Homo sapiens: one gene and its partners. Each later gene encodes a partner of the first gene's protein in a complex. Each region holds a gene or a part of one and is shown in the gene's direction. Other genes may lie near its edges.

What was found.
Region 2: the proteins of RANGAP1 (region 1) and XPO1 are in contact, whole or in part, in a cryo-EM structure (PDB 9B62), measured with the Homo sapiens proteins. Residues at the interface, in NP_001265580.1 of Homo sapiens: Ala2, Asp5, Ile6, Leu9, Ala10, Thr12, Leu13, Ala14, Thr16, Gln17, Val18, Ala19, Gln22, Leu23, Ser24, Phe25, Lys28, Glu44, Arg55, Ala561, Thr564, Lys565, Pro566, Ser568, Glu571, Ser572, Ser574, Phe575, Arg577, His578; in NP_003391.1 of Homo sapiens: Lys245, Ser248, Thr249, Tyr252, Lys253, Glu281, Gln282, Val284, Thr285, Leu289, Met292, Gln293, Gln296, Arg340, Asn342, Leu343, Lys514, Val518, Ile521, Lys522, Leu525, Glu529, Arg532, Lys534, Lys537, Ala538, Ala541, Met545, Phe554, His558.
Region 3: the proteins of RANGAP1 (region 1) and RAN are in contact, whole or in part, in a cryo-EM structure (PDB 9B62), measured with the Homo sapiens proteins. Residues at the interface, in NP_001265580.1 of Homo sapiens: Ser29, Gly58, Asn59, Thr60, Asp86, Thr89, Gly90, Arg91, Leu92, Arg93, Ile96, Asp121, Ala123, Phe124, Gly125, Asp127, Asn151, Cys152, Gly153, Met154, Gly155, Arg189, Asn190, Arg191, Gln217, Asn244, Asp245, Asn246, Thr247, Asp273; in NP_006316.1 of Homo sapiens: Asp18, Gly20, Tyr39, Val40, Ala41, Thr42, Leu43, Gly44, Val45, Glu46, Glu70, Lys71, Leu75, Arg76, Tyr79, Asp91, Thr93, Ser94, Arg95, Val96, Thr97, Asn100, Lys123, Asp128, Arg129, Lys130, Lys132, Lys134.
Region 4: the proteins of RANGAP1 (region 1) and SENP2 are in contact, whole or in part, in a crystal structure (PDB 2IO3), measured with the Homo sapiens proteins. Residues at the interface, in NP_001265580.1 of Homo sapiens: Glu467, Asn508, Thr511, Thr514, Arg515, Val518, His519, Leu523, Lys524, Ser525, Glu526, Asp527, Val529; in NP_067640.2 of Homo sapiens: Tyr408, His409, Trp410, Val477, His478, Asp495, Met497, Gly498, Gln499, Lys500, Pro536, His537, Gln541, Gln542, Asn544, Gly545.

Annotation. Positions count from the first base shown.
Region 1 is NC_000022.11:41,282,481-41,291,388, reverse strand, and holds the start of RANGAP1 (ran GTPase-activating protein 1), read left to right. Parts: upstream 1-5,201; 5' UTR 5,202-5,403; exon of another isoform or gene 5,404-5,718; coding exon of another isoform or gene 5,719-5,845; exon of another isoform or gene 5,846-6,026; intron 6,027-6,235; exon of another isoform or gene 6,236-6,488; intron 6,489-6,546; exon of another isoform or gene 6,547-6,626; intron 6,627-7,606; exon of another isoform or gene 7,607-8,602; intron 8,603-8,908. UniProt on the Homo sapiens protein: GTPase activator for RAN. Converts cytoplasmic GTP-bound RAN to GDP-bound RAN, which is essential for RAN-mediated nuclear import and export. Mediates dissociation of cargo from nuclear export complexes containing XPO1, RAN and RANBP2 after nuclear export.
Region 2 is NC_000002.12:61,527,525-61,535,685, reverse strand, and holds part of XPO1 (exportin-1), read left to right. Parts: intron 1-1,007; exon of another isoform or gene 1,008-1,263; intron 1,264-1,782; 5' UTR 1,783-1,788; coding exon 1,789-1,914; intron 1,915-8,161. UniProt on the Homo sapiens protein: Mediates the nuclear export of cellular proteins (cargos) bearing a leucine-rich nuclear export signal (NES) and of RNAs.
Region 3 is NC_000012.12:130,874,161-130,878,434, forward strand, and holds the end of RAN (GTP-binding nuclear protein Ran), read left to right. Parts: intron 1-385; coding exon 386-573; intron 574-1,451; coding exon 1,452-1,622; intron 1,623-1,721; coding exon 1,722-1,766; 3' UTR 1,767-3,518; downstream 3,519-4,274. UniProt on the Homo sapiens protein: GTPase involved in nucleocytoplasmic transport, participating both to the import and the export from the nucleus of proteins and RNAs. Switches between a cytoplasmic GDP- and a nuclear GTP-bound state by nucleotide exchange and GTP hydrolysis.
Region 4 is NC_000003.12:185,588,676-185,596,836, forward strand, and holds part of SENP2 (sentrin-specific protease 2), read left to right. Parts: intron 1-1,438; coding exon 1,439-1,494; intron 1,495-8,161. UniProt on the Homo sapiens protein: Protease that catalyzes two essential functions in the SUMO pathway.

The DNA of each region.
Region 1 (8,908 bases):
CCTGACCTCGTGATCTGCCCACCTCGGCCTCCCAAAGTGCTGGGATTACAGGCGGGAGCCACCGCACCCAGCCGATGAAGGAATTATTAAAAGAGAAGATAATCTGCCAGAAACCATTTGGTACCGGGAAATCCTCCATAAACATTAGAGCAGAATTTAAAACTCCTCCATAGACACCATCCTTTTCAATCTCTTTCATCACTGGATTTTTCAGGAGCTGGAACAGTGCCTATTGGAACATAGATGTTTGATAACTATTTGTAGAACAAATGAATTATTGTAATGATGGTTATTTATCAAGGTTAAATAGTTGCTCTAGTGGGATGCCCTTGGTTTGAGTCCTGAGAAAGATGTGGTTCGACTGTCCTTCATAGATGATGCAGCCAACCCACTCCCACCAGTGGAGGGGACCCTGGGGGAGGCTGCCTTGCCCTGCAGGTGGGCTGACCCATCTCTCTCCAGGGGCTGCAGGCGAGCACCCAGTTGGGTGTTGGGAATTTCCCTCCACATTCCTCACATGTCTGGCATACTTTAGCCATTTGTTTTTGATCTGACTAAATGGCAAGTCAGCAGCCTTGGTCTGTTTTCAGGAATCCAACATAAATATTATTATTTATTCCATTTACAATTGGCAATTAAGTTCGTTTTCAGGCACCAGAATGGAATTTAAAACACTCAGTTAAGTAAACCAGACTAATCAGAGGCAGCCTGCTTTTGTCTTTGAAACATTCTTTACAAAAACAACAAAAAAAGGCTGCACAACAGAGAAAGGCCTGGAACACTCTCTGCTTCTCCTGATTCCCCCTTAAACTCACCTCGCACTCACAAGTGAAGTGTATATGTTGAAAACAACCCTAGAAGGCCGGAAATGGTGGCTCACACCTGTAATCCCAGCACTTTGGGAAGCCAAGGTGGGTGGATCACCTGAGTCAGGAGTTTGAGACTAGCCTGGACAACACAGTGAAACCCCATCTCTACTAAAAATGCAAAAATAAGCTGGGCATGGTGGTGGGAACCTGTAATCCCAGCTACTCGGGAGTCTTAGGCAGGAGAATCGTTTGAACCCGGGAGGCAGAGGTTACAGTGAGCCTTGATTGTGCCATTGCACTCCAGCCTGGGTGACAGAGTGAGACTCCATCTCAAAAAAAAAAAAAAAAAAGTAATAATAATAATAGAAAAGGACCCTAGAGACCTGTCTTCTATTCTCTTTCTCTCTCTCTCTCTCTCTCTTTTTTTTTTTTCTTTGAGACAGGGTCTTGTTCTATCATTCAGGCTGGAGTGCAGTGGCCTGACCATGGCTCACTGCAACCAACCTCCACGTTCTGGGCTCAAGGATCCTCCTGCATCAGCCTCCCTAGTAGCTGGGACTCCAAGTATGTACCACCATGCCTGGCTAATTGTTTTTAGTAGAGACAGAGTCTCACTATATTGCCCAGACTGGTCTCAAATCCTGGGCTTTAGCAATCTTCCTGCCTTGGCCTCCCACAGTGCTGGCATTACAGTTGGTTGTGAGCCACCATGCTCAGCCTTGTCTCATGTGTAAGTCACACTGTAACTTGGGCCTTAGTTCTTCATTTGTTGAAATAAGGAACAAGATAGTCTTGGATGACACTATCCATCTGTCAAAGGCCATGATTACACTTCTTGGGCCAGGCAGACTAGCTCTCAGGTGATAACTTGAAAGAGAGAAAGCTGGAGAAAGGGCTGGAAGGAGAAAGAGAGAAGATAAGTGTGTTGCTTGGAAACAGTGATGATTCTTTTTTTTGAGGCAGAATTTTGCTCTTGTTGCCTAGGCTGGAGTGCAATGGCGTGATCTCAGCTCACTGCAACCTCCGCCTCTTGGGTTCAAGAGATTCTCCTGCCCCAGCCTCCCGAGTAGCTGGGATTACAGGTGTCTGCCACCATGCCCAGCTAATTTTTTGTATTTTTAGTAGAGACAGGGTTTCACCATGTTGGCCAGGCTGGTCTCGAATTCCTGACGTCAGATGATCCACCTGCCTCGCCCTCCCGAAGTGCTGGGATTACAGGCATGAGCCACTGTGCCCGGCCAGAAACAGTGATGATTCTTGATTCTTCTGATTCACTGGGCACCCTTGGGCAAACCCCCTGTTCCTTTTCAAACCCCAGTCTCCCCATTTGTAAAGAGGTTTAAGATAGATTCAGGAGGCCGGCCACAGTGGCTCACGCCTGTACTGTACTCCCAGCACTTTGGGAGGCCGAGGTAAGTGGATCACCAGGTCAGGAGTTTGAGACCATCCTGGCCAATATGGTGAAACCGTCTCTACTAAAAATACAAAAATTAGCCGGGCGTGGTGGCGTGCACCTGTAGTCCCAGCTACTCGGGAGGCTGAGGCAGAAGAATCACTTGAACCTGGGAGGCGGAGGTTGCAGTGAGCTGAGATCGCACCACTGCACTCCAGCCTGAGCAACAGAGTGAAACTCCATCTCAAAAAAAAAAAAAAAAAAAATCAGGATATAGGAGTGACAGAATCCAGATTGCTAGGGGGTGCTGTCAGGCTGAGTTTGTGATTTTTAGCTTCGAATGTGAACACCTTCAGGCAGAACATCCACTCTCTAACTCCCCCCAAGCCCCACCAAGCCCCGACAAGCCCCATGACTTCCTGTTACCTCCCAGGTCCTTGAAGGCCACTGAATTTCTGTTGTCTAAGAATTCCCTTCCAGTTCCGAAAACCCAATGTCCTATCAGCTGGATGAGGACGGGATCAGCTAAGATGTTCCCCTGCCCACCTTCCTCTTCCCTTTGGGAGGTCTCTGTGTGAGGGCCAAGGAAAGTCTCAAGAAGTAAAATTGGAAAAGGGAGCCTGCGGATCACCCCAAGGAAAATCCAGACTGATTCGATCAGTCCTAGCTGGAAGCAGCACAGGAATAGCAGGAAGCCTATGACTCATTTTAAGCAAACATCCGGTAACCCGACTGGTATCTGGTTCAAATGGGGAAACCTGAAGCACCTATGACAGGCCAGGCCCAGAGAAGATACTGCCCAGATGGATACAGCGTCTGCTCTGGAGACCCTCCCAGGCTGAGGAGGAAACTGCCAAGAACAGTGTTAACTCTGTCAAAGAGCCCCAGAGTCCCAGGCCAACTGCTGTGGGGCTTTGCATCTTGCTGTGGGCACCTGCAGGAGGGAGAGACTCATGAAGTAGCATTTGACATGGGCCTTGTAGGTAAAAAGGAGAGGGAAGGTGGAAAGAGGATCCACATCTCAGGAACTTTGAGAACTGGGAGAGTTACACTCTGTCTAGAGCTTCAGTTTTCTCATCTCTGTGCTGGGAAGGGTGGTAATGATGCCCACTTCCCTTGTGGTGGTGAAGATTAAATGAGCTGTGTGTAAAAGGATATGGCATGATCTGTTAATTAATTAATTAATTTATTTATTTATTTAGAGACGGAGTTTCGCTCTTGTTGCCCAGGCTGGAGTGCAATGGTGCGTCTCGGCTCACTGCAACCTCCGCCTCCCGGGTTCAAGCGATTCTTCTGCCTCAGCCTCCCGAGTAGCTGGGATTCCAGGCATGCGTCACCATGCCCAGCTAATTTTATATTTTTAGTAGAGACGGGGTTTCTCCATTTTGGTCAGGCTGGTCTCAAACTCCTGACCTCAGGTGATCCGCCCGCCTCGGCCTCCCAAAGTGCTGGGATTACAGGTGTGAGCCACTGCGCCCAGCCTGCATGATCTGTTTAACTTTTTTTTTTTTTCTTTTTTCAGTTTTTGAGACAAGGTCTTGCTCTGTCGCCAGGGCTGAAATGCAGTGGTGCAATCACGGCTCACTGCAGCCTCAAGCTCCCAGGCTCCAGATCCTCCTGCCTCAGGCCCTTAGCTGAGACTACAGGCTTGCACCATCACGTCCAACTAATTTTTGTATTTTTTGTCGAGACAGGGTTTGACCATGTTGCCCAGGCTGGTCTCACACTCTCTCGCCTATAATCCCAACACTTTGGGAGGCCAAGATGGGCAACAAGAGTGAAACTCCATCTCAAAAAAAAAAAACAAAAAAAAAACGCTGTTTGTGTTTTTATGCTTAAATTCACACCTACAGAAAAGTTGCAAAAATGTTCAAAGAACTCCCATATTCTTCAACCAGATTAACTGATTAACATTTTGCCACATTTGTGTCTCTGCTTTCTCTATGTATATGTATAGGTATATTTCTTTTAACCATAAAGGTTGCAGACATCATGTCCTTTTTGTCCCTAATTATTTCAGCATTTTTTTCCAAGAACAAGGGCAGTCTCTTACATAACCCTGTACCATAATCAAAATTAATAAATTTAACATTGATACAATACTATTATCTAATATAGTCAAGTTTTGCTGTTTCAGTATTGTCCTTTATAGCAATCCCCACCCAGGATCCGATCCAGGACCATGTCTTGCATTCAGTTGTCTTTTTCGTTTCCTGTAATCGGCAACAGTTCCTCAGTTTTTCTTTGTCTTACATAATACAGACATTTCCGGAAGGGTACAGATCAGTTATTCTGTACCATGTCCCTCAGCTTGGGTTTCTCATGATTAGACTAAGGTCATGCATTATAGACCGGACGGTGACGCCGTGTTTTTCTCAGTGCATCACACAGAAAGCGTGCGATGAATGTCAGCTTGTCCTGCTGTTGATGTTAACGTGGCCGTTCAAGTGGTGTCTGCGGAGCTTCTCTACGATAGTTACTATTTCCCCTTTTTAATTATCAGGTAATTTGTGCATATTTATGTGGAAGCCTTCGAATGCCCTTTCAGTTTCATGGGACGGAAAAGAGTCTTTTCTTTCGGGAAATGGATACCTGTGTCTTGCCCAAGAGACCCAGCAGCCAGCAGTACCTGTTATCAACAAAGTTACGCGAACAAAACCTTTCCGGAAGAGCTGAGGGACCTGGGTGCAACGCATTCTGGGAATTGTAGTCTCTGGGCGCTCCCGGCTGAACACCTCCCTGCGGTCTCTGCGAGAAAGAGCCAGAAGCCACCAGGGGAGGGCGAAGAGGAGGGCGGTGGAGGACGCTCTGCGCGCGGTGCGCCATGGGACGGGTAGTTCGCGGTGCGCGCCCCATCGCGCTCCCAGATGGGGAACCGGACTACTCTACCCGAGAGGCCGCGCGAGCGGGGCGAGGGCAAGCCGGCCGGGGCCTCGAACAAATCAAATCGAAGCAAAGAAACTGCCGGCTTTCAAAATCCTCCTCCTCCGCCATCATCCGCCGCGGTGCGGAGAGCAGGTGGTGCTGGAAGCGCGTGAGGCCGGGAGCTCGAGAGAGCTAACAGACTAGCCGGCTGGACATCTGGACCGCTGGATCCGGAGGTGGCGACCCCGGCCTGACCCGGACCCTAAATCCGTCCCCGCCCCAGAGGGCGGAGGCGCGCGCTCGATTCCCCCCACGCGGCGGCGCCGCCTGTTTACGGTAGAGTCAGGGTCCCTTTCCTTTCCCCGTCACCTGCCTGGAACAGGGGTGCGGGGCGAGGAGGGCGTGGCGCCCGTGTGCGCCTTCTGCCTGCCCCCTCGGCCTTCTTCACTTAGCCTTCGACGGCCGAGCGCCCCAGGGGTGGCGGTGGGAGTGGGGTTGTTGAGCGGCGCTGGCTCCTTTCACAAATGGGGAAACTGAGGCTTAAAGGGCGTCTGACTCGCCAGAGCAGCTCAGCCTGCAGCTGCTAGCAGTGGCGTCTCATATTAGCATTGTTGTCAACCGGAGGCGGTGCGAGTCCGCCGGGGATTCCAGATGGGGCTCCTGCGCCGCCCGCCTATCATTTGCGGCCTGTATTCGCGCGTCGCTCCCGCAGAGCCACCTCCCAGCAGGCCCACGCCCGCGGGGGCCCCGGGCTGGCGCCGCTGTCCCTGGAATCGATGTGAGTCACTGCTGACGCTTTGCAGGAGCATGCATCTCACCTCAGAAAGTCTCTGACGTTGCTGCGGAGCGGGGAGAGGATGTTTCTCTATTAGCCCTTTGCTTTTGCTCTGGCGCTGATCCTTTGCTGACCTTGGACAAATCAATTTACGTTTCTGTGCTCCAGTTTCTTGGTTTATAAAGTGAGTGTGGAGGGGTGCATCTCTGTCTCGCTCTCTCTTGGACTGAGGAATGGGCCCCCGTTCAGCTGAGAAGTTCTGTCCCTATTCTATCTGGAGGCTTCACCACCACCTTTTACCCTCAAATTGTCCCATCTCAGAACTGCAAGAGATGCTGGGGTTTCAGGTTAATTTTTTTGTTGGTTTTTCTTTAAATTTTTTTATCTTTTTAGAGACGGTCTCCTTCTGTCACCCAGGCTGGAGTGTAGTGGAACGATCACCGCTGAACTGCAGCGTCGGCTTCCTGGGCTCAAGCGATCCTCCCACCTCAACCTCCCAAGTCATGGGGACTACAGATGCCATCACACCTGGCTAATTTTTAAATTTTTCTGTGGAGACAGGGTCTCATTCTGTTGCCCAGGCTTGTCTCGAACCCTGGTCTAAAGTGATCTTCCCGCCTAGCCTCCCAAAATGTTGGAATTACAGGTGTGAGTTATTGCACTGGGCTGGTTTCTGGTTAATTTATTTTTTGAAACAGGGTCTCCAGAAGTACAGCAGCAAGATCTCAGCTCACTGTAGCCTCCACCTACGGGGCTCAAGTGATCCTCCCACCTTACATCCCAGGTAGCTGGGACTGCAGGCACCTGCCACCACACCCAGCTAGTTTTTGTATTTTTAGTGGAGACAGGGTTTCGGCATACTGCCCAGGCTGGTTTCTAACTCCTGTGCTCAATCGATCCGCCCACCTCAGCCTCCGGAAATGCTGGGATTGCAGGAGTGAACCATTACACCCGACTCTGGTTAATTTTTTTTTTTTTTGAGACGGAGTTTCACTCTTGTTGCCCACGTTGGAGTGCAATGCCACGATCTCAGCTCACCCCAACATCTGCCTCCCAGATTCAAGCGATTCTCCTGCCTCAGCCTCCTGAGTAGCTGGGATTACAGGCATGTGCCACCACGCCCGGTTAATTTTGTATTTTTGGTAGAGACAGGGTTTCTCCATGTTGGCCAGGGTGGTCTCGAACTCCCGACCTCAGGTAATCCACCCACCTCAGCCTCCCAAAGTGCTGAGATTATAGGCGTGAGCTACCGCACCCGGCCTGGTTAATTTTTATTTTATTTTATTTTATTTTATTTTTTTGAGGTGAGTCTCGCTCTGTTGCCCAGGCTGGAGTGCAGTGGCGCAATCTCAGCTCACTGCAAGCTCCACCTACCGGGTTCATGCCATTCTCTTGCCTCAGCCTCCCGAGTAGCTGGGACTACAGGCCCCCGCCACCAGGCCCGGCTAATTTTTTGTATTTTTAGTGGAGACGGGTTTCACCGTGTTAGCCAGGATGGTCTCGATCTCCTGACCTCGTGATCCGCCCACCTCAGCCTCCCAAAGTACTAGGATTATAGGTGTGAGCCTTTGCGCCCGGCCCTGGCCTGGTTAATTTTTATGCAATTTCAACTGGTCGTTTCTTGAGCACCTTCTAAATGCCAGGCTCTATGTGGCAAGTAGAGTGATCCTGTCAAAATGTACGTCAGATGACATCTGCTTTCTGCTAAAAACTTCAGTGGTTTTCCTTGTCACTTATAGCGAAAGCCACTGTTCTTCAAATGGGCTTTATGACTTGGGCCCCTTGTTAACTGTCTCTTCTCTTACCTTGTTTTTTTCCTCTCTCTCTGTGCTTCAGCCCCACTGGCCCTGTTGCAGTTTCTCCAACCCTCTGCCCCTACAAGAGCCATTGCATTTGCTATTCCCTTTGCAGGAATCATGTTCCCCCAGATGTGTGCATGGCCCAATCCCTGATATCTTTATTTAACTATTTCCTAATAATGCCTTTTTGTTGTTGTTGTTAATGCCTTTTTGTTGTTGTTGTTGTTATTTGTTTGTTTTGAGTTGGAGTCTTGCTCTGTCGCCAGGCTGGAATGCAATGGCGCGATCTTGGCTCACTGCAACCTCCGCCTCCCGGGTTCAAGCAATTCTCCTGCCTCAACCTCCCGAGTAGCTGGGACTAAAGGCGTGTGCCACCACGCCCAGCTAATTTTTGTATTTTTAGTAGAGACGGGGTTTCACCATGTTGGCCTGGCTGGTCTTGAACTCCTGACCTCGTGATCCACCTGCCTCGGTCTCCCAAAGTGCTGAGATTACAGCCGTGAACCACCACTCCCGGCCCCCCAACCCCCCCCTTTTTTTTTTAAATCACATACTAAATGTGTCATTTAGAACATATGCTTCAAGAGGTCAGGGTTTATGCTTCCTTTACTGCTATACTGCTGACCTGGAACAACATCCAGCACACAGTAGTAATCAATGTGTTTTTGAATGAATGAGTGGACACCTTACCCAGGATAATAATTCATGCTTATTGATAAAGGCAGACAAACCAGGGTTATAAGTTAGAACCCAGAGGAAGCCTAGGGGTGGGAGGATTCAGGGTATCACAACTGTATCTGAGAATGAGGAGGTTGTAGGAGGAGGCCTTTCGGATAGCACCCCCTAGTTCTGCCCCTCATATCTGCTTCCTTGGTCTCTCCTGATTACTTGCTGTTTCTTTTCTTTTTTTGGAGCATCTCACAGATACGTTTATTCATACCACAAAGTAAACACTATTCAGGTATGTAGTGATGTTCCACGTTCCTGTCTAATATAGCTGGCTTCAATTTATAGGCAGTACACATTGAGACATTTAATCTCACATGTACTCCAAGTAAAGCTGGAGTACCATGAGCAGGCGCAGGAGTTCTCAAAGCTTTACTTGTTTTAAAAATTTTCATTTATTGGCCAAGCGTGGTGGCTCATGCGTGTAATCCCAGCACTTTGGGAGGCTGAGGCGAGTGGATCACGAGGTCAGGAGATCGAGACCATCCTGGCTAACACACGGTGAAACCCTGTCTCTACTAAAAATACAAAAAAATTAGCT
Region 2 (8,161 bases), on another chromosome or scaffold:
TTTCTTGAGTTTTACATTATTTTTACATCATATCAATCATAGGTGACTCATCTTTTGGAGTTCTAATCTGTTGTAACAGACGTTATATTTAAATAAGACAATTGCATTAAAATAGAATTTGCTGCCATTATTGTTATGGACATTTTTAAGCTGTTATAAAATAGCCAGGAATTAATGACTTTTTTTCCGCCCTGCCAAGCTAGTTTGTCTAAATATAATGTAAAGAAATTAGCTACTCATTTTCTGGTCCACGAAAGTTCCTAAAATGGGAAGAAGTGGAGATCTGACCTTGTTAGTTCTAAATACACTAAACTGGGAGTGCCATGGATGGCTTTCAGGATGTCCTGAATCCTCTATAATTGTATACAAAATCGTGAGTTTTTAAAAACTGGGTTAGAGCTATTGGTTCCTCAGAGTCTCAGGCATCTTAGACCCCCAAAAAGGTTAAGGACTACTGACTTAACCAATTAGGTTTGAGTGGCATTGGCTTTGAAGAAAAGCAGAGGAAAGATATATTTTATAATTCTGGGCAACAAAAAAGTGGATGTGTGCCAGCATCTTAGAGTAGAATCCTCTTAAAAGGATAGCACTGCATATGAACTAGTAGGTTTTAACCAGTGCATATTTAGGCGAAGTAGCTCATTTTTCTGTTAGAATTCTTTTTTATTTGGGAATGGGCAAGCTTTTACAGCTTTTACCTTGCCAATGAATACCTGGAATTTAAAAAATCTTGTTAGGCATATTGCCCATAAAGTTTTTTTTCCTAGATCATATATTCAGTAAATATGTTTGTAGCTTTATTTCAATCCCCCAATTCATTGAGGGTTGAAACAATTTGAATGGTTTGAGTGTAGAAGCTAAGTTATTTCTGTAGAGGCTAAGGGCATTTATACCAAGATATGTTAGACTTGTGGTTCCTGCTAACCATTGCTGTAGACAATAGGAATTACTGTATATCCACATTTTAATTTTTAACATCATTCTGTCTTTGTTTGTTTGTTTTTGAGATGGAGTCTCATTCTCTTGCCCAGGCTAGAGTGTGGTGGTGCATCTCGGCTTACTGCAAACTCCGTCTCCTGGGTTCAAGCAGTTCTCCTGCCTCAGCTTCCCAAGTAGCTGGGATTACAGGTGCCCGCCTCCATGCCTGGCTGATTTTTGTATTTTTAGTAGAGACGGGGTTTTGCCATGTTGGCCAGGCTGGTCTGGAACTCCTGACCTCAAGTGATTCGCCCACCTCGGCCTCCCAAAGTGCTGGGATTACAGGTGTGAGCCACCACGCTCGGCCCATTCTGTCTTTATAGCATTATTTTTATAAAGTTAAGATAATGTGAAGTGAGCTTTTACTGAGTTATTCAGAAGACCCTACTTGGGAAGAAAAGAAAATCACATTCACTTGAACTTAATCCTACTTGCTTAAAAAGTTTTGACATCAAGATACTGAACTGTATCACGTTTTAGGACCATAAAATCCTAATAGTGGATGCGTTTAAATAATAGGTTAGCATACTTTATAAATGTTAGTAGAATAGGAAAGTCTTCCTGGTGTATAAACTAAACACTAGAAAAGTTGAATGGACCATAATAATTTATGTAATTATCAAATAGCTAAGTAATTTCAGCTTTTGTTACTTGCTTTTACTATCTCAGTTTTCTGTAATTAAAGTCTCTAAAGTATTCATTAAAATATTTGTAATAACATGGTTGAAGTAAAATAACTTGTAGGAAGTTTTTGATAATACCAAAACTTGATAGGCAGCTTCAATTTTTTTTCTTTATTTTCAGTAATCTATGCCAGCAATTATGACAATGTTAGCAGACCATGCAGCTCGTCAGCTGCTTGATTTCAGCCAAAAACTGGATATCAACTTATTAGATAATGTGGTGAATTGCTTATACCATGGAGAAGGAGCCCAGGTAAAGTAGCCAACCAAAACTTTATAACATTATGACAGTGTAACAGAGTTGTTGGGTTTAGAATAAAATTTTAAATTATCACCTTTAAAAAAGATATTCCATAGTTTGCATTAATTTGGAATTCTGTATTAACCATAATGAAAATTGGTTTGGAGAAAGAAATTGCATGTTTGACATGGTTAGAGTGGGTTGTTTTGGAATATTATACTTGTTTTGTCCTTAAGAGCCAAATGTTATTAAATACTTTGTAGGTATTAAAGGTTCTCTGTACTTTTATATATACTTAATATGTTTGGCACTAATACGATTCTTCTACTTTTAAAACATTTACAGAAGTACTTCACAGATATGTTTGTTTAAATAAAAACAGGAATACCAAGTATTTTTATGTTAGTTGAATTTTGTGCACTTTTCAAAGTGGTACTGTTAATGTAGGGAATTATCTTAAACATAAACCAAATTTTGATCAGTTTAAGATTTTTGGTTTTTTTGAACCCAACTAAAAGGTGAAACAGAAATGTGTGTACAATTTTAAATTGTATATGTCACAAGAAAAAAAACTTGATTTTTTACCTGTGGGGCCAAACTTTTTTTTGAGACAGTCTCGCTCTGTGGTCCAGGCAGGAGTGCAGTGGCGCTATCTCAGCTCACTGCAACCCCTGCCTCCTGGGTTCAAGCGATTGTCTTGCCTCAGCCTCCCTGGTAGCTGGGATTACAGGCACACGCCACCATGCCTGGCTAATTTTTGTATTTTTAGTAGAGATGGGGTTTCACCGTGTTGGCCAGGCTGGTCTTGGAACTCCTGACCTCAGGTGATCCACCTGACTCGGCCTCCCAAAGTGCTGGGATTACAGGCATGAGCCACCGCGTGCTGGCCCAAACATGTTTTTGAATGAGTAAAAAGTTTTGCAGTTGGGTCAGAAATCTTTTTTTTTTTTCAGATGGAGTCTTGCTCTGTCACCAGGCCTGAGTGCAGTGGCACAGTCTCGGCTCACTGCAACCTCTGCCTCCCAGGTTTTCAAGCAATTCACCTGCCTTAGCCTCCCGAGTAGCTGGGACTACAGACGCGCCACCATGCCCAGCTAATTTTTTGTATTTTAGTAGAGATGGGTTTCATCATATTGGCCAGGATGGTCTCCATCTCCTGACCTCGTGATCCGCCTGCCTTGGCCTCCCAAAGTGTGGAGATGACAGGCATGAGCCACCGCGCCTGGCCAGAAATCTTTTATGGTAGTTTTGTTGCCAGAACAGTAGATTTCTGGTTAGATAAATGTTCAGCTAGTAGATGGGAGGTTACTTATATTGTCAAGATATTTATATTTGCATAATTAAGAAACTGAGTGCCGGCCGGGCGCGGTGGCTCACGCCTGTAATCCCAGCACTTTGAGAGGCCGACGCCGGCGGATGACGAGGTCAGGAGATCGAGACCATCCTGGCTAACACGGTGAAACCCCGTCTCTACTAAAAACACAAAAAATTAGCCAGGCGTGGTGGCGGGCGCCTGTAGTCCCAGCTACTCGGGAGGCTGAGGCAGGAGAATGGCGTGAACCCGGGAGGCGGAGCTTGCAGTGAGCCGAGGTTGCGCCACTGCACTCCAGCCTGGGCAACGGCATGAGACTTCGTCTCAAAAATAAAAATAAATAAATAAAATAAAATAAAAAAACCTAAACCTGAGTGCCATTACACTTTCTGAAAATATATAAGGTGGATACAGTACTATCTTTTATAGTAGTCCAAAAAGCATCATGTATAAATGTTTCCATTCCCTTATGAAATGCAACAGTACTGCTTTTACTATAGTAGAAACTTGAAAAAGGTCCATGGAAACGCTAAAAGTAGAAAAAATTACTCTTGCAGTGATTCTGTAAGCTTGTTAGCCCAGGTTTATACTTTTAGGGCGTTTTGATCAGTATATTATCTCCTAAAGCATTCTTGAAAAAATTAACCATCCGTATTTATTATCCCTGTCATTTAGTTGTTACTCATGCTATACATTCAACATGAAGCTTTAAGCTTCATTTCTTCTAGCATGGATGCATAGAAAGCAGCTGCTTTTGGAGGAAGCTATGAAAGTAAGGTTGGGTTCAACTCTGAATGTAATATTGGAAGCACAGGTCTGTAGCCATTGGGAAAAAGGGCATTTAATTTTTTCCGCATAGATTCAGCTACTAATACTGTTTAATCTTCACACTAAACTAGTTCACTACATCTAAAGGTATGATAAATAAACCAACATAGAGCAGTGTTCTTCATGGCTTGTAACAGAATTAGTGGCAATTTTTGTAATTGAGAATATATTACAGCAATACTGCTTTTAATAATGTTTCATAGTATTAAGAAATTTAATGGTTTGTTTTAAAATTGACTTGTTAATAAAAAGTAGATTAAGAAAAGTGTTTCTAAATTTTTTTGTTTGTAAGGACAATAGGTTAACTTTCCCAAAGTAAAAGGATTTTGTCTGCAGTAGTTAATAGATCATGTGACAAAATCAGTTGCGTAGAAATAACTAGCAAACTTATTTTGTATTATAAATGAAGAAACAAGATTTAGAGCTTAAAGCTGGTTAAGGAGTCCTTTTGGTCTCTAAAAGTCCTATGTCGTTAGTTCAGTCTACTTTTCGTTTACCACCTCCTTGGGGGTCTTATTTCAAAGGAAAAGGAGTAGTAGTAGCAGCGAGCTGCTATAGTGGAAAACATGATTTTTAGTGTTAGACGTCTTAATTTGATTCTTGGAAGCTCTCTCTAGTCATTGCTTAAGTCCCATGTACAAATATGACCTGTCCTACAAGAGATTGGAGGGTTAGTTATGAGGTTTAAAAGCACCTATTACAGTGCTTGATAGGTAGAAGGCACTCAGCTTAAAGGGTACATTTAGCAGTATAATGAAAATGATTTAGCATATGTGATACTCATTGCTTAAAATTAAAAAAATTTTTTTTTTGCTACTCATAAAATATGCACTAATGACAAGAAAAATTTATTATGCTAATTAAGCTTTTAAAGTCAACTGGGAAAAAAAGCTGTAGGTAGGTTTTTTTTTTTTTAAAGGAATGTGTAACTTGGGGGAGGGGAAGAAATTATTTACAAGGGTGACTTTTAATCTGTAGACAGAACTTCTGCATACATGGTTAGTATAGTAGGATATTTAGCAGTGTAACATTAGGACTACCCTCTACCCTCTGTTATCAGCATTTTTCTATTTTTAGCCAAGTAGACAGCTAGAAAAAAGATGCGGGAAGAGTTGGATGTTTTCTCCAATATTGTGTTCTGTTAAAGATCTTGAACTCTATTGCTTAGCAACTAAAATGCTTTCACCATTCAGTTAGTAGTACAAGGGAGATGCTAGGTTTTCTCTCTTTAGTTTGCTTTTGTGTCTTTTTTTTTTAAACCCCTGCTGGGGTTTTAAGTTTATAAAGAACATTATGTAAGAATGGTGGGATTAGAATAAATCAGAATGCAAATACTAGAAGTAGCATCAGAGAGTAAAATTACAACTAACAGGAAAGAATATTATTTATGTAGCGATTGATGTGAGTGGTGATAGTGTGGGAAGTATTTGATTCTGTGTAGAATGCTTATCACTTCAAAGCATCTGACAAAATGGTAACTTGACCAAGTAACTTTTACTGTGTGAGGATCTTTGATACAACTTTTCCTCTAGTTAGATAAGGTTATCTAGCTAGATATTCTCAGGGAGAAGACCAAAACACTGCTAAAATGTGCTTTGGCCCTAGATAAGCCACATCATTATTCTTTCGGCCTTCTGTCATTTCTCATATGACACATTATGCCCATCAGTCCTTTAATGAAATCAAATAGAAATGTGTATGATTGTATTTTAAAGTATACACATTAACTCTTGTAACCACAGACTCACAATGGAAGCAGGCGTCTGATCTTTTCAGGCAACCACAGTGGTTCTGGTGGGTTTCTGGGTAGAGAACAACCATATAAGTTATTGAGTGTGTAGCAGTGTGTTTTCCTGATTGATGTATGGGATAGTCATGAATGTGGTATTGTATTTCCTACCTGAGGAAAAGGTCATGATTAAAATAAAGCATCAAAGCCAGGATAAGCATATAATTTCTTTCTTTTTTTTTTTTTTTGTAATGAGACAGAGTCTCACTCTGTAGCCCAGGCTGGAGTGCAGTGGTGTGATCTCAAATCACTGCAACCTCCGCCTTCCGGGTCCTGGTTCAAGCAATTCTCCTGCCTCAGCCTCCTGAGTAACTGGGATTACAAGTACGCCCCACCATGCCCAGCTAATTTTTGAATTTTTAGTAGAGACGGGGTTTCACCATGTTGGCCAGGCTGGTCTTGAACTTCTGACCTCGTGATCCACCCACCTTGGCCACCCAAAGTGTTGGGATTACAGGCGTGAGCCACGGTGCCCACCCGAGCATACGATTGTTTTAAAAAAGACTAGAATAAAAGCCAAGCTAAAGATTATAAGGTATCTTTGTCAGAAATGGTTGTGAGAGTGCTTCCTACCCTGTTTTTGATGCTTTATTGTTTATAACCATAGAATTAAACCCATGATAAAGTAAAGTATAAGAGAAAGATAACTGACAGATTTTAAAGTCATCAAACTTTTTTCTTGCTCTGTCACACAGGCTGGAGCACAATGGCTTGATCACAGCTCACTGCAGCCTTGACTTCCCAGGCTCAATCTTCCCACCTCAGCCTCCTGAGTAGCTGGGACCATAAGTGCGTGTCCCACCACACCTGGCTCATTATTAATTTTTCTTTGTTGCCCAGGCTGGTCTTGAACTCCTGGGATTACAGACATGAGCCACCACACCTGGTCCAAACTTTTTGCTTACAACTTTTAATAGAAATAGGTAAAAGAAATAGGAAGGATCTAATTGAGTTATAAAACAACCTTTAAAGATACAAAAGTGAAAAAGATTAAGCCATTGCTTTTTGTCAATAGAATTAAAAGCTGTTGGTAAAAATATTAATGTATGAAAAACTTATTGAAATGAAAAAACTATATATATATATATATATATATATATATATATATATATATATATATAAATAAAATGTCGACATGGCTGGATCTTAAAAACTGTCAAATGAAAAAAACTAATTGCAGGAAAGATTTTTTTTTTTTTTTTGAGAGGGAGTCTCACGCAGTCAACCCAGGTTGGAGTGCACTGGGGCAATCTTCCTGATTCTTGGGGAATCTTGGCTCACTGCAACCTCCGCTCCTGGATTCAAGCGATTCTCCTGCCTCAGCCTCCCGAGTAGCTGGGACTATAGGCGCACGCCACCATTCCCGGCTAGTTTTTGTATTTTTAGTAGAGATGGGGTTTCGCCATATTGGTCAGGATGGTCTTGAACTCCTGACCTTGTGATCTGCTCACCTCGGCCTCCCATAGTGCCAGGATTACAGGCGTAAGCCACCGTGCCCAGCCTAAAAGATTTTTAAGTATACTATTAACATAAAATTTGGTAGCCGTACAACCCTATTCATGAAATTTACACACATGCCGTGAAAATGTGGACAGGAAAAGACACACTAAGTTCATGATGAAAGCCATTACTTTTTAAAGAAGGAACAAAGGTGTAATCCCAGCACTTTGGGGAGGCTGAGGCAGGCGGGTCACGAGGTCAGGAGTTCAAGACCAGCCTGGCCAATACAGTGAAACCCTGTCTCTACTGAAAATACAAAAATTAGCCAGGCGTGGTGGCAGGTGCCTGTAGTCCCAGCTACTTGGGAGGCTGAGGCAGGAGAATTGCTTGAACCCGGGAGGTGAAGGTTGCAGTGAGTCGAGATCCTGCCATTGCACTCCAGCCTGGGTGACAGAGCAAGACTCCAACTTTAAAAAAAAAAAAGAGAGAAAAAAGGAATAAAGGAAGGAAATGGCACTAGGGAAAGGCACAAAGATGACTTCCATAAACTTTAGTTATTTTATGCTAAAAGAAAATCTGATACAAGCACAAGATGATGACTACGTAGATTAGTATTTCTGGGTTGCATGTTAAAAATATGAAAATAAAAACGGAAATAGTTTCCAAAACAAAGATTTTATATATGAAATTAGTGAAATTTCAGAATGGAGAAAGGATGGTTACAATAAATGTTAGGAGCCCTCTTTAAAGAGCTCAAATGGTATGTAAGTATTTGGGATTTGTGGTTTAATTAGACCTAGTTTTCAGCAGTCTTTCCATGAAATGTATTTTTGTATTTAGAGAGATCTTGGTAACTCTTGTAAAGCAGAGTGTCCTGCTACATTACATAA
Region 3 (4,274 bases), on another chromosome or scaffold:
TTAAGACAGGAATAATGTTTTCCAGTATAGCCAGCCATTTAAAGACCTTCTGAAGAATGTGTTTCCAGGCCCTACCCTCAGAATATGGCAGCTTGGTTATCCAGAATCTCATTTAGCATTAATTACTTCAGATACTTTTTTGGGATGAGGGGAGTATTAATGGTGAAGTATATCAGGGAGATTTGATAGGGTCAGCTCATCTCTCTTAGGAGGAATTGTGTATTAACATTTTTAGAATTGACAGAGACCTTGAAAGTGAGGGGAGAGATACAGGTGACTCGTTGAGGTCTAAGACTATAACTAGTTGAATCCTAGTCTCTGGTTCTTAGCATTCTTCACTTGTGCAGTAAACTGAGTGTACTAATTCCCACAAATGTTTCTTCAGCCCAGTGTGCCATCATAATGTTTGATGTAACATCGAGAGTTACTTACAAGAATGTGCCTAACTGGCATAGAGATCTGGTACGAGTGTGTGAAAACATCCCCATTGTGTTGTGTGGCAACAAAGTGGATATTAAGGACAGGAAAGTGAAGGCGAAATCCATTGTCTTCCACCGAAAGAAGAATCTTCAGGTGTGTAAAATTAAAACTTCCTGAGTTATTTCTCTTAGCGGAGATTATATGTAAGACCATGAAATTAACCAGTGTCTATTATATATGGAAATGATTTTTTTTTCCCCAAGACGGAGTCTTCCTCTGTCCCCCATGCTGGAGTGCAGTGTCGCAATCTTGGCTCACTGCGACCTCCGCCTCCCGGGTTCAAGCAGTTTTGTCTCAGCTCCCCTAGTAGCTGGATTACAGGTGTGTACCACCACGCCTGGCTAATTTTTGTACTTTTTTTTCTAGTAGAGACGGGGTTTCCACCATGTTGGTCAGGCTGATCTCCAACTCCTGACCTCAAGTGATCCACTTGCCTTGGCCTCCTAAAGGGCTGGGATTACAGGCATGAGCCACTGTGCCCGGCCGGAAATAATTTTGTCTTTTTTATACTACTGTTTTTAAAGAATGATAGAGATTGGGTTTCACTGTTGGCCCGGTTGGTCAGCTGAAATGTTTGTGTATTTATATATTTGTTGTTCGAGACAGGGTCTTGCTCTGTTGCCCAGGCAGGAGTGCAGTGGCATGAACATAGCTCACTGTAGCCCTGAACTCCTGGGCTCAAGCAATCCTCCCACCTCAGCCTTCTGAGTAGCTGGGCTCACAGGCACTCACCACCATGCCCACCTAATTTGTTTTTTTGTGGAGTTGGGGTCTTGCTCTGTTGCCCAGGCCTGATCGTGTACTATTGGCCTCAGGCAATCCCACCTCAGCCCCCGAAAGTGCTGGGATTACAGGCATGAGCCACCATGCCTTGCCAAGAATCTTAACATTTTCTTATCTTGCAATGTCCTAGAAAAATCGTCATCTTAATAATGAATTTTAAAAAGTAATTTTACCTTTCTTTTAAACAGTACTACGACATTTCTGCCAAAAGTAACTACAACTTTGAAAAGCCCTTCCTCTGGCTTGCTAGGAAGCTCATTGGAGACCCTAACTTGGAATTTGTTGCCATGCCTGCTCTCGCCCCACCAGAAGTTGTCATGGACCCAGCTTTGGCAGCACAGTATGAGCACGACTTAGAGGTATTGTGGCCACTTTGCTGTTCAGATTGTTCGGTTTGGCTTGTTTATTCCTGGCAGTTTTGATCTGGAGTGTTAACGTTTTTCCATCTCTTCGTCTAGGTTGCTCAGACAACTGCTCTCCCGGATGAGGATGATGACCTGTGAGAATGAAGCTGGAGCCCAGCGTCAGAAGTCTAGTTTTATAGGCAGCTGTCCTGTGATGTCAGCGGTGCAGCGTGTGTGCCACCTCATTATTATCTAGCTAAGCGGAACATGTGCTTCATCTGTGGGATGCTGAAGGAGATGAGTGGGCTTCGGAGTGAATGTGGCAGTTTAAAAAATAACTTCATTGTTTGGACCTGCATATTTAGCTGTTTTGGAACGCAGTTGATTCCTTGAGTTTCATATATAAGACTGCTGCAGTCACATCACAATATTCAGTGGTGAAATCTTGTTTGTTACTGTCATTCCCATTCCTTTTCGTTTAGAATCAGAATAAAGTTGTATTTCAAATATCTAAGCAAGTGAACTCATCCCTTGTTTATAAATAGCATTTGGAAACCACTAAAGTAGGGAAGTTTTATGCCATGTTAATATTTGAATTGCCTTGCTTTTATCACTTAATTTGAAATCTATTGGGTTAATTTCTCCCTATGTTTATTTTTGTACATTTGAGCCATGTCACACAAACTGATGATGACAGGTCAGCAGTATTCTATTTGGTTAGAAGGGTTACATGGTGTAAATATTAGTGCAGTTAAGCTAAAGCAGTGTTTGCTCCACCTTCATATTGGCTAGGTAGGGTCACCTAGGGAAGCACTTGCTCAAAATCTGTGACCTGTCAGAATAAAAATGTGGTTTGTACATATCAAATAGATATTTTAAGGGTAATATTTTCTTTTATGGCAAAAGTAATCATGTTTTAATGTAGAACCTCAAACAGGATGGAACATCAGTGGATGGCAGGAGGTTGGGAATTCTTGCTGTTAAAAATAATTACAAATTTTGCACTTTTTTGTTTGAATGTTAGATGCTTAGTGTGAAGTTGATACGCAAGGAAAATGGTCCATGTTTACCCACAGTTTTCAGGTACTCCTAGACTTTAAAGATGTCTTGAACATTTAAGTTCTTCAGCAGTTCACACTACACCGTTTTTTTGTTTTTTTTTCCCCCCCGGGAGGGTTTTTTTGTAGGGCAGCACAGCAGAGCAGGACATGGATGAAATACTAGGAATATGCACAGTGGGGCAGTGTGGGGGCTTCTCAGTAATGGAGAACAGTTGGTGAAACTTTTTTTTTTTTTTAACTAAGCATTTAATTTATCTTGCATATTTTCCACATTTAAAAATGAATTAGGTCTATTAGGATAATTAGGAGTTTGATCCCATCAACACTATTCTTGTAGCAGTTAGGAATCTTGAGCTATTTTTTTCTCATACGATTACTATAGTCCAGTTTACCAAAGTTTTCTTTAGATGTCTGATAATCTTGAGATGATTGCTTACCTTAAAAGGTATAGAAAGGATCACTTAAATATATGGAAAAATGAAATAAGGGTGAAGCTGAATAAAGTTCTACTTACTGTATTAACTGGCAACAGTTGAGTTTCTTAAGATCTGAATTGCTGTGTATGTTACGCTGTATTCAGAACCAGTTTCTAACCAGCCTGTGAGATGGGAAGTTTTTTCCCCATAATTGGGATGAAACCTTTCATTCAGGTATTTTGAATTGAAGGTGTATGTGTTGTTTGTAACCTTGTGGAGATTGCAAGTGGTGTTGACATTCTGGATCTTCTATGTAACAGTTGAAATTTGGAAGTGACGTCACTTACCTGTCTAACGTGGTGTGGGAGAGAATTTACAAGTCCTTTATTGAAAGAATAATTGTTGCAAAATATATTGCTTCTACTTTGCCTGGATTTTTTGAATCATCTCTAGTATTTGCTTTAGGAAATGCTGAAGAGTTAGCAGAGATTATTATCTTTTGGGGGGGCGGCGGGGAAGGGGTCAGTTCTCTCCAGATTGTACAAATGGGAAAAGTCTGCTCTCCATTTTTTGAAATCTCGTGTCTAATGGGGGAAGCCTTGAAAGCTTTATATGAAGTTACTGCAAACCAGTAATAGCTTATTAGAGCAAAGTCATTAAGAAAAAGCATAGTTAGTGCATAGGTCTTGTGTGGATATAATGTGAAACTGGTAAATTAGTAGTTTCAATTTGTGTGAGAGCCAGTTTTTTTAAAAAACCACATAGAATGGGATTTTTTAAAAAATTGTATCAATCATAAAATGTCTAGAAAAGATGAGACTCCAAAATAGCCTCCAAAGAGGACTGGTTTCCTGGCTAACTGTTCACCTGAAGGAACTCAAGTACAGAGAATTTCTGGTTTCTTTTGCAAAAACAGATCAGAAACACAAAAAATTACCTGCTGAGCAAATGGGATGAGGGTTGGATTCAGCTTTTCTTGCCAGCAAACTGACGGACATCGTGTATGATGTTTTCTGCCACTCGGGCTGTACAGGGCTATCCTGCCCAGCAAGATTACGTGAGACTAAGCTTTCCCTGTATGAGGCAGACCCTGTACTAGGACAGCACCTATCCTAACTCCTTGCAGCACCTTTTACCCTTGAAGCCGAGGGCATGGTGGGGAGAAACGGCACCTAACCATGGAAACCTTA
Region 4 (8,161 bases), on another chromosome or scaffold:
TCCTATCTTTCCGTTGGGTTGATATAAGGATCATTTGAGAACGTGGTGTAAAGTGCCTAAACTGATGCTTAATGTATATAAGGGTAGTATTTGTCTGTCCTACTCTGGGGCCTTTTGCAGAGTCTGGTGCATGATAAGCACTTGGTCCCTATTTATGGAATAAGGGAAAGCTAATTTCCTCTCCCTTGTCCTCTCCTTGATGTGAATCCCTGCTAGTCAGTGGAACATGGTTTGGCGATCAAAACCTTGATCTTTACTATACTTTAGGTGTTCACATCCTTAATCCAAAACAACACTTCTCAGTGTAAACCAATTTTCAGTCAAAATGAAGCCCGGCAGGGCTTGTTGGAATGTATAAAGTTATGAGCTGAATGGAATCCTGGGATCTCATTCTATTCATTTTTTTTTTTTGCATGTGTGAATATAATTGATCATAAGGGTTCAGAGAGATGATGAGTAATATACTATGACCCTTTAGCATTCTTGACATCTGGGTCCTGAAACTTTCCTCAATTCCAAAGTTCTTTATTACCATCATAATGTAGTTTGCGTGATAAAAATGAAGTTAAATATAACACTTGATTAAGATTTGTCTTTTTTAAGTTGTAGAACAGTTTTTTTTAACTCCCTTACACACACACAAAAGAAAAAACAGTAAAAAAGAATTGTCTTTTAAGGCTGTTCATATTAATACTGTCACCTAAAGTAAAAGATGGCTTTCTTTGGGGATCATTTTCAAAAGGAAATTGCTTGTTTGTTGTTTTTAAATCATTTCTGGAGCGAAAGAGAAAATACTGTCCTAAACTCTTACCTGGGTTCATTTACTAGCTAAGTGACTTTGGCCAGTTTTAAGTTTGTACTTTAACCAGATGGCAAATTATTATTTGGTAAGAAGTTTGTTTCTCTCTCAAATAGTTGAAACTGTAGCAGTAAGTCTTCGCATGTGAAAAGCCTACTATAGAATAGCATTCTCTCTTTTGTTTTGCTTTTATTTTTAGTTTTATTTCTTTTTAAAACAAGGTCTCACTCTTTTGATTAGGCTGGAGTGCAGTGGCATGACCTGGGCTCACTGCAGCCTTACTTCCTGGGCTCAAGTGATCCTCCTGCCTTAGTGTAGCTGGGACCACACTCACTTACCACCAAGGCTGGCTAATTTTTTATTTATTTTTTTATCGTAGAGATGAGGTCTTACTTTGTTGCCCAGGCTGATGTCAAACTCCAAGGCTCAAGCGATCCTCCCCCTTGGCCTCCCAAAGTGCTGGGATTACAGGCACGAGCCACTGTGTCCCACCAGCATTCTCTTTTAAAACATCAGTTGGATCTCATTTTATGACAAAGTGATAGAAGGGGGATGTGTTATATGAATAGTAAGTTTACTTACAGAAATGAATGTGTGTGTAAATCTATATATATATATTTTTTTCTTTCTCTTTTTCAGCACTCTGTTTTCTACAGTGGACACTGATGAAATACCAGCCAAAAGACCAAGATTAGGTACTGAATATAAATTTTAAAAATTTTTAGTTTTTAAATAGGAAAAATATATGCATGGAACAAAATTCAAAAGGTAAAAAGTATCTGGTAAAAAGTAAGTCTTGGCCGGGCGCAGTGGCTGTAATCCTAGCACTTTGGGAGGCCAAGGCAGGCGGATCACCTGAGGTCAGGAGTTTGAGACCAGCCTGGCCAACATGGCAAAACCCTGTCTCTACTAAAAATACAAAAATTAGCTTGCTGTGGTGGCAGGAGCTTGTAATCCCAGCTACTCGGGAGGCTGAGGCAGGAGAATCGCTTGAACCTGGGAGGTGGAGGTTGCTGTGAGCCAAGATGGTGCCATTGCACTTCAGCCTGGGGCGACAGAGCAGGACTGTGTCAGGAAAAAAAAAAACAAAAAAACTTAAGTCTCTTTCCTGGCCCGACGTGGTGGCTCAAACCTTTAATTCCAGCACTTCAGAGGCTGAGGTGGGAGGATCACTTGAGGTCAGGAGTTTGAGACCAGCCTGGCCAACATGGTGAAACCCCATCTCTACTAAACATTAAAAAATTAGCCAAGTGGTGCACGCCTATAGTCACAGCTACTCGGGAGGCTGAGGCACGAGAATCGCGTGAACCTGGGAGGCGGAGGTTGCAGTGAGCCAAGAATCTGCTACTGCACTCTGCACTCCAGCCTGGGCGACAGAGCGACACTCCATCTCAAAAAAAAAAAAAAAAAAAAAAAAGAAAGTCTCCTTTTTTTTTTTTTTTTTTTTTTTGAGACAGAGTCTTGCTCTGTCGCAGGCTGGAGTGCAGTGGCGCAATCTCGGCTCACTGCAAGCTCTGCCTCCCAGGTTCACGCCATTCTCCTGCCTCAGCCTCCCGAGTAGCTGGGATTACAGGCACCCACCACCACACCTGGCTAGTTTTTTTGTATTTTTAGTAGAGATGGGGTTTCACCGTGTTAGCCAGGATGGTCTCCATCTCCTGACCTCGTGATCTGCCCGCCTCGGCCTCCCAAAGTGCTGGGGTTACAGGCGTGAGCCACCGCACCCAACCCAAGAAAGTCTCTTTCCTATCCCTTTCTTATCTTTTCTAGAGGTAACTACTGTTACCAGGGACTTGTCTAATCCTTGCAGGTAAATAAGCCTAGGTGTAGACTGTGCATTTTAAAATTCTAAATCATTCTACAAAGAAAAGATACTTCTTATTTATTTATTTTTTGAGATGGAGTCTCGCTCTGTCACCCAGGCTGGAGTGTAGTGGTGCAATCTCGACTCACTGCAACCTCCACCTCCCGGGTTCACACCATTCTCCTGCCTCAGCCTCCTGAGTAGCTGGGACTACAGGCGCCCGCCATCATGCCCGGCTAATTTTTTGTATTTTTAGTAGAGACGGGGTTTCACCATGTTAGCCAGGATAGTCTCAGTCTCCTGACTTCGTGATCCACCTGCCTCAGCCTCCCAAAGTGCTGGGATTACAGGCGTGAGCCCCCGCGCCTGGCCCTACTTATTTTTAAGGAGGAAATGTTGTAAATGTTTCAAACTGAGGTGACTCTAGTTCAGATGGCTGAGGGAACCCATCTTTTCTATTTTTTTTTTTCGAGACAGGGTCTCATTCTGTCACCCAGGCTGGGATGCAGTGGCATAATCATGGCTCACTGCAGCCTCCACCTCCCTGGGCCCAGGTGATCCTTCCATCTCAGCCTCCCAAGTAGTTGGTTGGGCCTACAGGCACGTTATCACACCTAGCTGATTTTTGTATTTTTTTTGTAGAAACAGGGTCTTGCCACATTGTCCAGGCTGAAAATAGGCAGCAGTGGCATTTTGAAAGAATACTCCTGTCTTTAAGAACCGGTAATATTTCTTTTTTTTTTTTTTTTTTTTTTTGAGACAGGATCTTGCTCTGTCTTGATCTTGTCATCAACAATTTTTTTTTTTAATTTTGTAAGAGGCAAGGGTATCACTGTGTTGCCCAGGCTTCAGTGCAGTGGCACGATCGTAGCTCACTGCAGTCTCAAACTCCTGGGCTCACACAATCCTCCTGCCTCAGTCTCCTGAGTAGCTGGGACTATAGGCCCATACCACCACACCTGGCAAATTATTTTGTATGTGGATACTGAGTCTCCATATGTTGCCCAGGCTGATCTTGGAACTCCTGCCCTTCCAAAGTGCCGGGATTATGGATATGAGCCACTGTGCCCAGCCAAGTCTTTTACTTCAGTATATCTGAATGGATAAAGAAAATAAAAGTAGATTAAAGGAAAAAGGCATAGTAAAATGCTATAATAATATATTCCTCTTTCTCAAAAATGATTATAAATTTGGGTCTACCTCCAGATGTGGTAATTGAGTGTGGACATATTTGTGTTAATATTTCGTTTAAATTCAGTGAGTACTTATTGAGCATGTCTCAGTGCTAACCAATGTGTTAGGTTTTACAGAAAATACAAAAATTAGTAAGACAGGGTCTCCTTTTTTTTTTTTTTTGAGATGGAGTCTTGCTCTGTTGCTCAGGCTGGAGTGCAATGGCACATTCTCGGCCCACTGCAACCTCCGCCTCCCAGGTTCAAGTGATTCCCCTGCCTCAGCTTCCCAAGTAGCTGGGACTACAGGTGCCCACCACCACACCCGGCTAATTTTTGTATTTTTAGTAGAGACAGGGTTTCGCCATGTTGGCCAGGCTGGTCTCAAGCTCCTGACCTCAAGTGATCCACCTGCCTTGGCCTCCCAAAGTGCTGGAATTACAGGCGTGAGCCACCGTGCCCGGCCTGGGTCTCCATTTTTAAGGACCTTATATGATAATATGGTAGGGGGTATAAGACAATCACATAATAATGCTAATGTCAATGAAAATATAAAAAATAAAAAAACAAAGATAGTAACAAAATCCTATCCAATTTTCAGCTCATCGAGTCTCAGTAAATGTTTGCGGGAGTTAGTATGAGTTAGTATGTTAGCCCAGGTCTTGAAGGATGGATAGGATATCAAAGGAGAGCAATAGGAAGGAAAAATATTCTAGGCAGAGGGAATAGTATGGGAAAGTTGTGTAAATTCAAGAAATAGTGAATAGAGCTCAGGGAAAAAAAATGGCTGAAGACAGGTAGATCAAATTATCGTTCTGTTTTGTTTTGTTTAGTTTTTTAATAGAGACAGGGTCTTGCTATATTGCTCAGGCTGATCTCGAACTCCTGGGCTTAATTAAGTGATCCTCTCACCTTGGCTTTCCAAAATGTTGGGATTACAGGCGTGAACCACCATCCCCGGCCAAGGATTTTCAAATGACAGGAATTTATACTAAATTCATTAGAACAGTATTTCCCAAAGCACAGGATAGATACCAATTTAGGAAATGATTTTAGGGGATTCAACATTCACAGCATTATGTAACATTTGAATGATGATTATGTACTAAGAAAGGTGTATCCTTTTCAGTTATTTATTTGAGGTGCTCACATCCTGTTTATTTCACACAGAAAATCTTGATTTAATGCTAGTATATCTTCAATACTTGTCTAATATATGCTAATCTCCCATTTTTTAACAGGCCCAACTAGAACTTAGTATTATTGTGTTTTCATTTCTTTTTTTTTTTTTTTTTGAGACGGAGTTTCTTTCTCGTTGCCCAAGCTGCAGTGCAATGGTGCGATCTTGGCTTGTTGCAACCTCCACCTCCCAGGTTCAAGTGATTCTCCTGCCTCAGCCTCCCGAGTAGCTGGGATTACAGGCGCCCACCACTATGCCCGGCTAATTTTTGTGTTTTTAATAGAGACAGGGTTTCACCATGTTGGCCAGACTGGTCTCGAATTCCTGACCTCAAGTGATCGCCCGCCTCGGCTTCCCAAAGTGTTGGTATTACAGGCGTGAGCCACCTCACCCGGCTGTGTTTTCATTTCTTTATAAGGCAGGTGATGTTGGCTTTACATATACAGTAGTAATTTAAAATTATCTTTTTTTTTTAAGCCAAAAAAGGAAGTCAGTTTTAAAGAAAAATATAAATAGCTTGTACTTGGATGTGGTTAAAAAAAAAAAACACACACAAACGTTGGTATTACAGAAGGTTTCTGACTTAATTATTTAGGACAATCATCTGTTTTATGGATTCTATGTTAAGGATCACTTATTGCATCATTCCCATTAAATATGTAGTATGATTTTCTGAATGGCAAATTGTAGAAGGGAATCTAAACCAAAGGGTAAGCGGTGGGTAGCAGAGTTTGTAAAGGCCTGTAAAGTGCTGCCCAAGAGAACTTCCTGCAGTGATAACTGTTGAGCACTCGAAATGTGGCTAGTTCAACTGAGGAACTGAATTTTAAACTTTATTTGATTCTAATAAAACTTTAAGTTAGGTAACCATATCTGGCTACTAGCTACTGTGTTGGACAGTACAACTCCATTGGTTGCTTTTGAGAGAAAAAAAAGCAAAGCAAGGGTAAAAGAAAAGAAAGAAGACCTCAGAATTTCAGGCTCATGATCTTTTTTTTTTTTTTTTTGGGACAGAGTCTCGCTGTGTCACCCAGGCTGGAGTGCAGTGGCACAATCTCGGTTCACTGCAACCTCCACCTCCCAGGTTCAAGCGATTCTCCTGCCTCAGTCTCCTGAGTAGCTGGGATTACAGGTGTGCACCACCATGCCCAGCTAATTTTTATATTTTAGTAGAGACGGAGTTTCACCATATTGGCCAGGCTGGTCTCGAACTCCTGACCTCAAGTGATCCACCCTCCTTGGCCTCCCAAAGTGCAGCTAATTTTTGTATTTTAGTAGAGACAGGGTTTCACCGTGTTGGCCAGGCTGGTCTTGAACTCCTGACCTCAAGTGATCCACCCACCTTGGCCTCCCAAAGTGCTGGGATTACAGGTGTGAGCCACCGTACCTGGCTCAGGCTCATGACCTTAAAGGTGAAAGAGATTTTAAGAGATCTATGTAGTCTAGTTTCAGGGAAGTAAGGTGATCTTTTCCCCATTTTACAGATGAGGCAGGCCTTCTGTTTTTTAAAAAAATCAGTGAGATCTTTTGACATAATCTCAGGGGCATACCGAGATTTTGATAACATTCGTAGGAAAATAAATATTATGATATTGTTTAGTAGCCACAATTTGCTATGTTACCAAGAGGCTTCTTGTCCTCTAGAGTCTGGATGACAGACTGTGGGTTAAGCATCAATCGCTAAAGCTCTTCTTCTCCTCCTTAGAAAGTGCAGCAGAGTGTGTACTATCCCTCAGCACTATTAGAAGGGGATAACCTGGAATTCTCTGATTCCTAAAATGAAAAACAACTCATTTGCATAGTTTGGTACTTATAACTATTAGCAAATTTCTCAAATTGGATTGTGCTTTACCTGGCCATTACTTTTTCCCTTTTGTTTGTTATTCCCCTATGTTTCTGGAAAGTAGTTTACATGTTCTGGAGCACTGCTTAAAAGCTACCATTGCAGTCTATCTTTCTCTAAAGCAGAATGGCTAATGTGATGTTCTGTTTTTCTCAAACTAGCGTCTTCAAATACCCTTAATTAGGACATAGGATATTGTAGAAAGCTTACATCAGATATATAGAAAGTGAGAAAGAGGTAGTGTAATAAAAGGAGGAAGTGAGGAAAGCACTGAAACCTACCCTTTCCTTTTATTTTTGGTGGCAAGGAAGGGTGAGCCTGAGATTTTTTTTTTTTTTTTTTTTTGAGACAGGATCTCCCTCTGTCACCCAGACTGGAGTGCAGTGCCGTGATCTCACCTCACTGCAACCTCTACCTCCCGGGTTCCAACGATTCTTCTGCTTTAGCCTCCCAAGTAGCTGGAATTACAGGCATGTGCCACCAGGCCCAGCTAATTTATTTATTTATTTTGAGATGGAGTCTCACGCTGTTGCCCAGACTGGAGTACAGTGGTGCCATCTTGGTTCACTGCAACCTCCGCTTCCTGGATTCAAACGATTCTGCTGCCTCAGCCTCCAGAGTAGCTGGGATTATAGGTGTGTGCCATGACGCCCAGCTAATTTTTGTATTTTTAGTAGAGACGGTTTCGCCATGATGGTCAGGCTGGTCTTGAACTCCTGACATCAAGTGATCTGCCCGCCTTTGCCTCCCAAAGTGCTGGGATTACAGGCTTGAGCCACCGTGCCCAGCCTAAGATCTTCTAACACATCTCCACTAGAGGGATAGTCTTGTTCTATCTTAGATGTTTAAAAGCTGCATATTTTAGGCCAGGTGCAGTGGCATACACCTGTAATCTCAGCACTTTGGGAGGCTGAGGCAGAAGGATCACTTGAGCCCAGGAGTTCCAGACCAGCCTGGGCAACATAGTGAGACCTGCCTCTACCAAAAAATCAAAAAAATTAGCCAGACATGGTGGTGCATGCCTGTGATCCCAGCTACTCAGGAGACTGAGGTAGGAGGATCACTTGAGCCTGGGAGGTTGAGGCTGCAGTGAGTAGTGATCATGCCACTGCACTCCAGTCTGGGTGACAGAGTAAGACCCTGTCTCAAAAAAAAAAAAAAAGCTGCATATTTTATACTTTACTTAGCCAAGCTATAATACGGGCTTAGTAAATAGTTGTTTAGGGCAACTACAGTATATTGTTACCTGCCTGGGAAGTAAGGACAAGCTAGTGAGACTATGACAGTGCTTCCTGTAGAATTCTGCCGTACTCGGTGGCTATATGCTCCTTGTTGTTTAATCATGCCCTCACCTCTGTGGTAA